3 linked regions of the Homo sapiens genome follow. The protein of the gene in region 1 purifies or fractionates together with the protein of each later gene. This does not show direct contact. Each region holds a gene or a part of one and is shown in the gene's direction. Other genes may lie near its edges.

The links. Proteins that work in one complex are often made in the same cells at the same time.
Region 2: the proteins of LAD1 (region 1) and OLA1 fractionate together in Homo sapiens (co-fractionation; one large-scale study listed by BioGRID). This does not show direct contact.
Region 3: the proteins of LAD1 (region 1) and KLHL18 purify together in Homo sapiens (affinity purification with mass spectrometry; one large-scale study listed by BioGRID and IntAct). This does not show direct contact.

What each region holds. Positions count from the first base shown.
Region 1 is NC_000001.11:201,384,058-201,389,324, reverse strand, and holds part of LAD1 (ladinin-1), read left to right. Parts: intron 1-21; coding exon 22-165; intron 166-2,146; coding exon 2,147-2,990; intron 2,991-3,519; coding exon 3,520-3,624; intron 3,625-4,489; coding exon 4,490-4,533; intron 4,534-5,267. UniProt on the Homo sapiens protein: Anchoring filament protein which is a component of the basement membrane zone.
Region 2 is NC_000002.12:174,119,440-174,123,975, reverse strand, and holds part of OLA1 (obg-like ATPase 1), read left to right. Parts: intron 1-300; coding exon 301-381; intron 382-698; coding exon 699-796; intron 797-4,536. UniProt on the Homo sapiens protein: Hydrolyzes ATP, and can also hydrolyze GTP with lower efficiency. Has lower affinity for GTP.
Region 3 is NC_000003.12:47,341,001-47,344,722, forward strand, and holds part of KLHL18 (kelch-like protein 18), read left to right. Parts: intron 1-1,718; coding exon 1,719-1,830; intron 1,831-2,554; coding exon 2,555-2,941; 3' UTR 2,942-3,722. UniProt on the Homo sapiens protein: Substrate-specific adapter of a BCR (BTB-CUL3-RBX1) E3 ubiquitin-protein ligase complex required for mitotic progression and cytokinesis.

The sequences.
Region 1 (5,267 bases):
CCCTCTCCTCCCCTCCCCCAGCCTTGCCCGGCAGAGGACTCTGGAGGATGAGGAGGAACAGGAGCGCGAGCGCAGGCGGCGGCACCGCAACCTGAGCTCCACCACGGACGATGAGGCTCCCAGGCTCAGCCAGAATGGAGACCGGCAGGCCTCTGCTTCTGAGAGGTAGGTGCTCAGGTTTCTATCCTGATGGATGGGGATGGACTGGTTGCCTCAGACTAAGTGCAGCATATTCAGTCTGCTCAGGGAGTTGGGGCCCAGGAAATGAGGCTGAAGGGTGTGATGATGAATTTCCAGTTCCCCACCTTCCCCAGACTCAGTCCTGCCAGCTTCCATCCTCTTCATAACAATGCTTGCTACTATTTGTAGACCATCCATGAGCCAATACTGTGCTGGACATTTTATGGCCATAGCTCACGTAATCCACACAATGTCCCTGAGAGAGAGGTATTGTTAACCCATTTTACAGGTGGAGTAACAGGGTTGAAAAGTACTTAGGTGACTTGCTGAGGTCACGTACCTCAAGAGTGGCAGGGCCAGAATGTCCATCCAGATCTGTCAAGCTCCCGCCTCCTTCCATTATCCAGGCTGCCTTCTTCTAACCCTGACCCTCTATAATTTACTTCTTTTTTTTTTTTTTTTTGAGACGAAGTCTCGCTGTGTCGCTAGGCTGGAGTGCAGTGGCGCGATCTCAGCTCACTGCAAGCTCCGCCTCCTAGGTTCAAGCAATTCTTCTGCCTCAGCCTCCTGAGTAGCTGGGACTACAGGCACCCACCACCACAGCCAGCTAATTTTTGTATTTTTAGTAGAAATGGGGTTTTACCATGTTGGCCAGGATGGTCTCGATCTGTTGACCTCATGATCCACCTGCCTTGGCCTCCCAAAGTGCTGGGAATACAGGCATGAGCCACCGTGCCCAGCTGCCTTTTTTTTTTTTGAGATGGAGTCTTGCTCTGTCACCCCGGCTGGAGTGCAGTGGCGCAATCTTGGCTCACTGCAACCTCCGCCTCCCAGGTTCAAGCTATTTTGCCTCAGCCTCCCGAGTAGCTGAGATTAAAGGCACCTGCCACCATGCCCGGATAATTTTTGTATTTTTAGGAGAGATGGGGTTTCACCATGTTGGGCAGGCTGATCTTGAACTCCTGACCTCAGGTGATCCACCAGCCTCAACTTCCCAGTGCTGGGATTACAGGTGTGAGCCGCTGCACCGGCCTATAATTTACTTCTGAGGAGAAGAACCTTGGGGCTAGTTTTGCCATCTAGATTTTGGGATTATGAGGTGGGGGAAGAGCCTGGGGTTTACTGAATGCCACCTACATGCCAGGACTGTCCTGGGCACCCTCATGAGTCTCATTTTGCTTCCTAACAAGCCCAGTTTGTAGATGTGAAAACTGAGGCTCCGACAGTAAGTTAACTTGCCTGAAAGCACATGGAGAGCAGGGTGATGAGGAAGGAAAATAATCTCCTTTTGCTGGAGGCCAGGTGCTGTGGGTTATGGACAATCCTCTCATGTTACTTTTGTTTCTTTGGGTCCCCCAAGAAGGGAGAACAGGGCTGTGATGACCCTCTCCTCTCCTGTCCTCCCCTCCCCCAGCCTTGCCCGGCAGCAGACTCTGGAGGATGTCCAGAGCTGGGCTGCACCAGTACCTGTGGCTGTCACCTAGTCTTGGCTGCACCCACAAGACTGACAGGAGTGTGGAATGGTGCATCGGAAGACTTAGGTTCTGCTCCCAGCTCCCCCACGAATCAGCTGTGTGACCTTGACAAAATCCCTGGACATCTCTAGTCTTGATCTAAGATCTAAGGGGCAGAGACTGTGCTTATTCCTTTTGATCCCCAATGCCCCAAGCAGGCTCTGGCACATATTAAAGCAGTTATTCAGAGTCTGTTGACTACGTCTGAACATGGAGTCGTTGGACTTCATAGGAATTTATAAGCTTTTTAAAAAGCATAGTGTGCTTTGCTCAGATGATACCTTGGAAGTGCAATATATCGAGTGGATAAAGGTGGTGGTGAGCCGGGGAGGCCAGGGCCTGACATCCTCACCTCCTCCTTGGTGGCCCTGGCAGCATCTCCATTGGGTTAGGTATACTTAGGGTATCTTCCACCTCTATCCTCTGATTCTGTCTCCCATCTTCTGATTCAGACTACCGAGCGTGGAAGAAGCAGAGGTGCCCAAGCCACTGCCCCCAGCCTCCAAAGATGAGGACGAGGACATCCAGAGCATCCTCAGAACACGGCAGGAGCGGAGGCAGAGGCGGCAGGTGGTGGAGGCTGCACAGGCCCCCATCCAGGAGAGGCTGGAGGCAGAGGAGGGGAGGAACAGCTTGAGCCCTGTGCAGGCCACACAGAAACCCCTAGTCTCCAAGAAGGAACTGGAAATCCCACCTCGCCGGAGACTGAGTCGGGAACAGCGGGGCCCCTGGGCCCTGGAGGAGGAGAGCTTGGTGGGCAGGGAGCCAGAAGAGAGGAAGAAAGGGGTTCCAGAAAAGTCCCCAGTCTTGGAGAAGTCCTCCATGCCAAAGAAGACGGCACCTGAAAAGAGCCTGGTCTCCGATAAAACCTCCATCTCTGAGAAGGTGCTGGCCTCAGAGAAGACATCTCTATCAGAGAAGATAGCAGTGTCAGAGAAAAGAAACAGCTCAGAGAAGAAGTCTGTTCTAGAAAAAACCAGTGTCTCTGAGAAGTCGCTGGCCCCAGGGATGGCACTGGGCTCAGGAAGGAGGCTGGTGTCTGAGAAAGCTTCCATCTTTGAGAAGGCACTGGCCTCAGAGAAGAGCCCAACTGCAGATGCTAAGCCGGCCCCAAAGAGGGCCACAGCCTCAGAGCAGCCCCTGGCGCAGGAGCCGCCAGCCTCTGGGGGAAGCCCAGCCACCACCAAGGAGCAGAGAGGAAGGGCCCTCCCTGGGAAGAACCTGCCCTCTTTGGCAAAGCAGGGGGCTTCAGACCCTCCGACTGTGGCCTCCCGCCTCCCACCCGTCACACTCCAGGTTGGCAGTGTCCCGTCCCTCCCACCCTTCTACTCTGCCACCTGGCTGGCACTGCCGGCCAGTCCCACCCAGGTAGTCCCTGGTTCCCTGGCTGCCTCCATCCTCCTACCTGCAGGCTGGCCTTGGAAGTCTCTTCTTTCCCTGCCTGCTTCTAGCCATGGTCAGAGCAGGGAGGCTGAGATGGGGCAGGCTGCTGGAGCTTAAAGGGGCACCAGCTGTGGGGCAGGGAGCATCTGGTGCCCCCCACCATATCCTCATCCAGGGCCTGGGCTCCAGGACCCCGGCAGACTAGTGGGGAGCCTCAGATCCTTCTAGAAGCTCCCCTGGAAAGCTCTGCCTGGTGCCCTGGCCCCAAGGGACTTTGTCTGTGAGCCACTCCCACAGCAGATGAAGGAGGCAGGAGAGAAGGCACAGGGCTGTCTCATTCTCCCCTCTTCCTGCAGCTCCTGGGGTGAGCCATGGGGTTTATGGCTGCCCCGGCTTGATGGGCCCTAGACCTCTTATGTGACACTCCCCCTGCTCCATCCAGGTGAAAATCCCCAGCAAGGAGGAAGAGGCAGATATGTCCTCACCCACACAGCGAACCTACAGCAGCTCCCTCAAACGCTCCAGCCCCAGGACCATCTCCTTTCGGGTGAGAGCCCTGGGCACCCTGGTCTGCGAGCCACTGGAGGGCAAGTGGAGGAAGCCCGCATCCATTACAACATAGGAGCCGTAGGTTAGGTAGGAAGGTCCCCTGGATAGAGAGGAGCTTTGGATTCCCATGGGTGGCCCTGAACAAACAAGGTTGTATTCAGCAGAGGAGAACAGGTTAGTAACCTGGGGGGTAGGTGCCAGTAAGCATGAGCAGCCCCACCTAGTGGGCAAGGCCAGGGCTGCATGAAGACCGGACAGGCAGGGCTGGCCCTGGGCTGCAGGGAGGTCCACACCTGCCTTCATCAGTTCCTGGCCTCACCTAGGAGACTTGTCTAGGAGGGGAGGGGAGGAACAGAGAGCAGCAAGGCTCTCCTACTGCTCCCTGCCCTGCCACTCTCCCAATAGTACAAACTATGTGGATTGGGGAAATCTCGTCTTGCTTTGTCCTGGTGTTTATTCTTGGTTCTTCTGTTCACTGGGTCATTCACTCAATCATTGGGTATCATGCCTCTAATGTGTGCCAGGCCCTGGAGAGGTGGCCCAATAGCGACTGGTGCCCCCACAGAGCTCATGGGCAGTGGGAGGCAGATAGGAAACAGGTGGTTACAGGTGCCCTGCGAAGGAAGTCTGAAGAAAGTCTTCTGACCCATATTAGTGGGTGGGAACCTGTGTCTTCCAGATACAAACAAGGATCTTTAACGAAGGCTTGTCCACATATTTCTTTGGTGGGGTTGACCCCTGGTAGAAGGGGTGGGAGGTCTGAAGAGGAGGAGGACATGTCTTGAGAGCTGGGCTCCTCACTCGAGGGGGCCACCGATTTCCCGGGGACTCCCACACAACAATGCCTTTCCTTCTCATTTCAGATGAAACCCAAGAAAGAAAACTCGGAAACAACCCTAACTCGCAGGTGGGGGGCCTGGAGGCTCTGGTTCTTTCTATTTGGCCATGTTCAGGCTATTTTCTGAGTACCTGCACCCGCCCTCCTTGTGCCAGGCTGTGCGGTAGGGCACATGAGGGGAAGGTGCAGTCCTTGCCCAGGGCTCCAGATCTGGCAGGGGGATGGGATTAACAGGATGAACTCAGGCGGGATAAGATGGAACAAGGATGGGGAAGGATCAGGGAGAGCTGCTCAGAGGAGGCAGGGCTTGGGTGGGGCCCCAAAGGGGGATGAGGGTTTAGCCTTGAGGTTAGGACAGGGAAAGGGGGCTTTCTGGGAGGGAGACCACGAACAGTGTAAGGGAGGGGAAGCCCCTGCTCCAGCAGGCCTGGTTGGGGGGCTGTGGGTCTGCAGGTTTAACAAGGATTCCTGGGCTCGCTGGTGTTGATGCAAGAAGCCTGAGGACTATGCTTTGAAAAAAAAGCAAAACTGAAATAGGATCTGAGAAGCAGATGTGCTTATGTATTAGGAATGTCATCCACTCATGCTGTATTCATCTGCCCCATGAACATTTACTGGAGCCTACTACACTAGGCTAGGCCTGGGGGCTGGGGTGGGGGTGGAGGAGGAGGAGTACAAAGACAAATGACACAGCTGCTGTCCTCAAGCAACTCACACCCACCCAGCAAACCTATAGCAGCTCTCTCAAACATGAGAACATTACATACTGGCCAACCAGGGAGGGACAGGGACACAGGAATATG
Region 2 (4,536 bases), on another chromosome or scaffold:
ATATTGAAATGGTAGTAACTCTTGTATTAGTCTTTGATGTAATTGAATTGTCTTGACATTTTTCAGGCTGTTACTAATTTTTGCTAATATTGTCCATTTTATACATTAAAAATTTAATGCCACAATGTTTTATTAGTAATTGGTTTTTAAATGAGATATTGAAAATAATTATTTGTGTGACCTAGCCCCCTTTCATTAAAACAATCTATTTTTATTTTGAAAATTTGAAAACTTTTTAATATTTAGTATCTAAATGTTTAGTTATTCATATATATTTACCTTTTTCTCAATCATGTGTAGGATATAATGTGCAAAGTAAAATCCTGGGTTATAGATCAAAAGAAACCTGTTCGCTTCTATCATGATTGGAATGACAAAGAGGTAAGTTGTAAATATCATGCCATCTATTACTGCCTTTGCTTTCATTTGCTAGGGAACAAATTAGAGTTGTTGTTATTTTACACTTACCATTATATCTAAATTTTTATTTCTGTCAGTGATTGCTTATTCCTGGGCTTGTTATTTTTTTCTTTTCCCCCACTCATGATATTTCATAACCACTAATCTTTTGGAAAGAAGAATTATAAAAATGAAAATGCCTACTTGTTTTAAGGAATGTTTACTTTCAAATTCTTCAGTGATTTACTCCATATTTACTAAACTTTTAAAAGGGATTCTTTCTCCATCTCCCACTTTAGATTGAAGTGTTGAATAAACACTTATTTTTGACTTCAAAACCAATGGTCTACTTGGTTAATCTTTCTGAAAAAGACTACATTAGAAAGAAAAACAAATGGTAAGTTTTTCCTCACCAGATATACCCAGATGCATCATCTCTGTACACACACAAACACACACCCACATATATGTACTTAACGGCAATGTTTAATTTTAATATTTTTCTCCTTATTAAAAAGTTTAAAATGGATGAGAAAGCTGTGCTTGGTATTTACCTTCACAGATGAGTCTTCTAATTGACTTAGAGAACTTAAGAAAAACTGAATTAAATAAGCAATATTGAATTATATACATTTACTTATCAAATGTAAGTTTATTAGACATTATCGTTTATTTCCATTGCAAAATGAGAATAAATGTAGTCACAACAATAAAACTTCTTACACTAGGAATTTCTAGCTGTGTTGATATTATAAGTGACTTTAAAATACCCACCTGGGGTTGTAGCTGGGCATGAATTTTAAAATCCAGATTGAATGCTTTAAAAAAAAAAAAAAAAAGACTGTGTGTGGGGAAAGACCAGTACCTGTTTCAAATGCTTTAAAAGTACATCGAGGTAAAAACTATGCATTCATGTATTGATTGTCATTTTTGGCATGTAACCAAAATGTACAAGATTTGTTACTATCACTGATAACTTCAGAAAATTATATGTTCATGTACCTGTGGGCATGTCCACATTTGGCATACCACTCACTTTGACTTGCCTCACTGGACTCTTAAGTATTTTATACTATTGAGTCATACAAACAAATCAAAACTATCCAAAGCAAAATATCTGAATTCTCCTAAACTATATTGTCTGTTTCTCCCTGTACTTCATTAAGTACTTAGATGCACATGGTTTCAATTTTCCATTAAAAATTCTCATTTCCATATGATATCAAAGAGTGAGAAGGCTTTAAACTGAAAAATAAACATTCATAGACTGGAAGCCAAAACAATAATTAATGTCAGATGGTTAACTCCAATAAATCATTAGAATAAATTCTGTGAAATTACTGCAACTAAAAATGCCCTGTTGATATTACTATAAGACATTTTGTGTTCCTGATAGGAAGATGAATTTAGCCTCTTTATTGGTAATGTTCTAAAAAGCATAAATTTAACATAAAGATTTCATTCAGCTGGTCAGTATCCTCCATCAGGTAATTAACTTTAAAATAATCAGTTCTGTCGCCTTTCAAATTCTTATAAATTTGATGATTAATGTGTTAAAAATTGTTACCTTTAGGAATGAATTTTAAAATTTATTACTTGACCTCAGTTAATAAATCTTCTCATTGTGGTATGAATGGTAAGGTTTCCTGAGGCTCTGTGAAACAATACAGACATCAAAGTTTACATGAAAAGGGATGAGTCAGTTTCCTTGCCCAAAGGGACTTCTCACACCTGTATTTGGATGATTACAGGTAGAACTCCCTGGCTCTAATTGTATAGTAAATACCATTTCCCAGACCCTAATGGTAGACAGACTGCTTAGGAGACGCCAGTCTGTGATTTAGCTGTCGCCAGACACCCCATGTTTTTTGTGAGACCAGTTGTGATGATGACATGGTTATAGCCAATTGAAAGTAAACCCTTGTCTAAATAGCAAATTTTAATTTATAATAATGTAGAGGTATGAATGATCCTATTTTATAAAACCAAATCTTAATAGGTTTTATGTATAACTAATGATCTGGCTTGGGGTTGGTGTGTGTATGTCTTGGGGGGAGGGTTGGGAGGGATCCAGATCTTGTGGAAGTTAGTGTAATTGTAGCTGAAAGATCAAAGACTGGGTAACTGAATGATGTTCCAGAAGAGAATTTACCACATAGCCATTTTCTGTACAGTTTCTGCCGCCTGCTGTTCCTATTTTCCCTCAAGCTAGCCATTGACTACCCCCTGTGCATCCCTGCTCGTAAAAAATGATTGAGGAAGTATTTGTCATATATTTATGAGTGGGAAATATTGTGTGATAGGGAATGGCATCTACTGGAGCCAGAAAGATTGCCATTTTCCTTTCATTCAGCCACTCTGCTACAGCTTTAAATCCTCTCTGTTTATGCAACATAGCCTTTGTATTAAAGTGCAGAATAAATTTTTATTATGAGGGATATGAACACTAGGTTTTCATCATTTATAACACTGAAAGCAGATGTAAATAGTTAAAATCCATTTTAACTACTAAATCCTTTTAATTGTGTTAGCATCTTGTTTTTTGGTAATGTTTACATCTAAGCTCCATTTGCATTATTAGTTGCTTCTTTAGCAAAAGAAAAAGTTTTTGTTTTTTAAGATTAACATGTAATGTTACTATAGCAAATAAGACTGATGCAGGAAACAGTAATAAATACTTTCATGGGTCTTTTAGATCTGGAAAACTATTTTAAACCATCAAGAAAGAGGAGAGGAGAGGTTTGTGACTTTGGCCACAAGAGGAGACTAAAACTGTTGTTATTTTAGCAGGTCACCATTTCAGAAGTATTGAACACTTTAGTTACTGAAGTTCACCCTAAATGTAAATGGTAATGTGTTATTTTTCAACCCTAGAAAAGAAGGAAGCATTTTGAAAGATAAGTCTATTGTGTTATTGAGTAGCTATATTGACATTTTGTGAGATGCAAAAACTGGAATGGCTGCAAGCATTAGTCATTGAATTAGTCATTTCATTGATTTATGACTAAAGACCTAGCCCCTGAAGAGAAGCTGACATGGCAGCCGGGTTGGTTGCAGTTGTGTTATGATCAAATGACAGTAATCAAGATGTTGTAAGTGAATCCACAAACCATTTTTTATTATTACAAATTGCTGTTTCTTGAATGAGTAAAACTATATAGAAGTTTTTGTTGTTTTTGGTGAGCACAAGCATTTTTGAACACTTGAGGTTTTCATTTTCTAAACACGATCAGCTGTTACTTATAACTAAGATTATACTATAGACGGTATTAATTTTCATTTGAGATTGCTTACTGAGTCATGGTGTCAAGCAGGTACAGGACATTAGAACTGTCAAACTACTGCTTAATTAGGGGTTTAAATTTCAATCTTTGCACCCTTGCTGCTCTGTTAGTAGAATATGCCATCCAATTATGAAATCAGTAGAATAAACTAATTTTACATATTTTTTACACCTACCAGCCATCAATTATGTTTCATTTTTGTGATCCTACCTTTCTTGAAACTGTTAATAAAGGATAATTATATTTTATTATTTATTATACTACATATTTATGTTCAACTGGAAAATATAACTAAACTTTTAGATACGCAGACTGTGTGTGTGTGTGTGTGTGTGTTTGTGTGTGTGTGTGTTATACACACATTTTCATATGCCCTGGTGGGCTTGTAGTCATTTAACATTACCTTTTGGGTAATATTATATGAGTCAATTAATCTGAGTGATGAAATTGATTCAAGATAGGTAGACAAATACTTGGAAAGTCTTTTAAGTTGTTTAATAATGAAGGGCAATGTGTCAAGTTCACTAAATGCATTTTAAATAGAAAAATGTTTTATTATTCTTATTATACCATGATTCAGTTCCTTCCCCTTTCCCATCTTTATGTGTTCATTAGTTTTCCACATAATTTGTACATAACAACTAAAAATAGTTTGGGGATACTACACATTATGTGCTTGGTTTGGGGGGAATCATGGAATAAATATATTTTCTTGATTTCTTGAGCTGCCTATAAAAATTACAGCTACTATATCTCAGTAAGTGTATATGTAGGTGGAAGTGTGTATATTTTTGACACACAATTTTCTATTTCTGTATGTGTGCATATATATACAAACACATATATGCATATA
Region 3 (3,722 bases), on another chromosome or scaffold:
TAGGATATGATTTGGAAAAAAAAAAATGTTTTTAAGTTCTGTGGTCAGATAGGCTTGGGAAATGTTGATGTCTGAACTGCCAGAGTCCTTGTCTTTCCATAAGATATATTAACATTTTAAAGACTCTAAGAAACCCTGCAGTAAATAACTCTGTTTAACCTCGGGTTTTATATACACAACAGTCACCATCTTGTGGGACTCATTTGTGGAACACTCTTTGAAAAACATTGACAAGGTTAGCCCGAGTTTTTCATTTCAGTATTTGAATCCTCTCATCTTATATAATAAAATATAAACAAATTAGTTGAATGGACTTATTAGGATGCCTTTAAGCCAGTATTCTGTTCACTTGACCAATCTACTGTGGATCAGACAGCAAGCTGGGTGTCTGAGATCCTTTAAAGCATCCAATGTGGTTGGGCCATGGGTTGCATCATGATCATCCTACCCTGGAGGCCTGTGTCAGAAGCTCTTGGGCACAGAGCAGAGAGAACCTTCATCTTCCCCAGGGTTGCAGGAAGGGACAGGGTAGCAGGGATGTCTTCCAAGGTGAGACCTGTCATGGATAGCCAATGGGAGGTGTTTGCTCATCATAGGGAGACAACAAGGAGTGAGGCTGCAATAAGAAAGTGTTCACTGTAATCGAGAACAGCAATGATCCTCTCATGGGCTAGAGCACAGCGTGTGGATGGGAGACGGAGCAGGGTGGGTGGCATGTGGTGTGGGGTGAAGCTGAAGGGTGGTTGAGGACCAAGAGGTGAAGAACCACATGAAGGGCTGGGCACAGTGGCTCACGCCTGTAATCCTAACACTTTGGGAGGCCAAGGCAGGAAGGTAACTTGAGCCTAGGAGTTTGAGACCAGCCTAGGCAACATAAGAGAGACCCTGTCTCTTTTAAAAAAAAAAAAAAAAAAAAAGGAGAGAGAGAAAAAAACATTAGCCAGGCATGGTGGCATAAGCCTCTAGTCCCAGCTACTGAGAAGGCTGAGGCAGGAAGATTGCTTGATTCTGGGAGGTCAGAACTGCATTGAGCTATGATAGCACCACTGCATTCCAGCCTGGGTGACAGAGTGAGACCCTGTCTCAAAAATAAAAAAAAATTAAAAACCACATGAAGGAACCTGGATTCTCTTAGAGGAGACAGTGAGGAGCCACTGGACGGACATGGTGCAGGTACAGGAGGAGCAATCCCTCTGGCTGGGTGGGGTCGGATGGGACTGGTAGGAAAGCCAGGCTGCCTGTAAAGAGGCTGTTGCAGTGGTCCAGATGAGAGGTCAGGGGTAGGGCACTGGTAGTGGGGATGGGAGCAAGCACTGACTAGGAAGCAAACCAGCCAGGACTTGGGGGACCACAGGAATGTTGATGGTGAGGGAGAAGCAGCCAGAATAGCACTGAGCTTTATAAGTACAGCAGCTAGAGGGCTGGTGGTCTGCTTAACAAGGCAGGGAGTGCAGGGAGGAGCAGAACTGTAGGAGAAAGAGGTCTTGTATGAGACAATGATTTTGAGCAGCCATGGAGATGAGCAGAGAAGATGGGCTGTGGGTTTGCAGCTTGGGTGAGAGGCGGCAGCCAGGGAGAACTGTCAGAGAGGTGGTGGGAGAGGTGATAAGAGATGGAGAGATGGCCAGCACAGTTCACCTAAACCCTGCTAGGCTGTCTTGAGGGAACAAGAACCCTGAATCTCATGCTTCCCCTCCTATTTTGACTCTTTCCTGAAGATGGACAGTGGTGACCTCGATGAGCTCGAATCGCAGTGCTGCTGGGGTTACAGTCTTTGAGGGCAGGATATATGTGTCAGGCGGCCATGATGGTTTGCAGATCTTCAGCAGTGTGAGTCTGGGCTCCCCCTGGGATAAGGGTACCTACTTCTGTCTTTGAGATTTATTTTAGAAGATCATTATTTGAAAAAACTTCAGCCTTGCCACAGCTGAATAAAGTATCATCTAGTGAGGTTTCAGGCTATCCACTGCACCTTCTGAAATTCTGAACTTCCAGAGAATGAGCCAGTGTACACAAAAGAAGGGCAAAGGGTAGTCACATCTGCAGCCACCACCCTGTTCTACTGTCTGTTGAACACTACATAGAACTTGTGAGATTCCTGCCCAAAGTAAGTTCAGTTATAGACCAAGTGTAAATTTGCAAACAGTTGTATTCTTTTGGATAATTTGTTTGAAATTGTATTTATTCTGTAAAAAAGGCTCAACAGCCATTTACTAGTCATTCCATAGTCAGTCAGTGCTGCAGTGGAGAGCCCTGGAGATTACAGGAGACCCAGCTCTCATACAGGTTCTGTCACTACCTAGCATTGCATCCTTGGGCACATCCTTTTTGTTTCCTTAGATGCAAACAGAAAGGGTTAGGTGAGGTGACCTCTCCCTGTCCCCATACACCAAAGAGCAGGCCTGCAGCAGAGGGAATACTGGGAGAGCTCCTTGTCCCCATACCTCCCACAGGAGTTTGACATCATGGGGGGCTGCTGTGCCCTGCACGGTCACTCCATGGACTGAGCTTTGCCTCTGACTGTCCTGTACCTGTGCCTCTCTCCCCACTGCAGGTGGAACACTACAACCACCACACAGCCACCTGGCACCCTGCAGCTGGCATGCTCAACAAGCGCTGCCGGCACGGAGCCGCCTCCCTGGGGAGCAAGATGTTTGTCTGCGGGGGCTACGATGGCTCTGGCTTCCTCAGCATTGCCGAGATGTACAGCTCTGTGGCAGACCAGTGGTGCCTGATTGTCCCCATGCACACGCGCAGGAGCCGGGTCTCCCTGGTGGCCAGCTGTGGGCGCCTCTACGCTGTTGGGGGCTACGACGGACAGTCAAACCTAAGCTCAGTGGAGATGTATGACCCAGAGACAGACTGCTGGACATTCATGGCCCCCATGGCGTGCCATGAGGGAGGGGTCGGTGTGGGCTGCATCCCTCTCCTCACCATCTAAGGCAGAGGATGGGATGTGGTGGGGCAGGGATCTGGTACAGACATAGGCGCTTCCTTCCAGGAACAGTCCCTCAGGAGAGGCAGTGGACCAGAAGAGATGGCGAAACGTGAGCTCGCCGGAGGTACAGTTTTTCCAGGTGCTTAAGCCCTCCCCCACTGTGCCACCCTTGTGACCTTCAGGCTTGGGTCATCAAGATGCACAGCATGGAACACAAGCTCCTCTGGATCCTGCAGCTGGTGACATGGAACTGTTTTCTGGTCCACATGAACACAGGCTCCATCCAGGCCCAGCTCCTACCCACCGCCTCTCTGTGGGCCAGCTGTTCACAGAAGGCCTTCCATCTGATGCTCCCCATCGCCTGCTTGCTCTCCAGCCGAGTCTGGCCAATTTGCCATGGGGAGGCTGCAGTGTCCAAGCCTGCTGGAAACTGGGATGTAGCTGGGGACGAAAGGACAGACCCAAGCGTTCTCCCTGCCTGAGATGGTGTGGCCACAGCAGTGGAAGGCTGCACACAGGCACATTCCTTCTTCCACAGTGGGGCACCAAGGATTCTGTCCTCATTGCTGGGTAAGCAGGGAGAAGAGAAGTTTTCCCCATGTCTAATTTTGGGATTTCAGTGAGGCCTTTTGATCTGTCCAGGAGAACAGAAGGGAAAAAAAGATACTTGAAAGAAACTGAAGGAAATTTAAACAAAGAAACACTTGAAAGAAACTGGAAAGAAAAATAATTTTTTTATGTGAACAAATTTTGCAAGAAGAAAAAAGCATAAAAGACACTAACG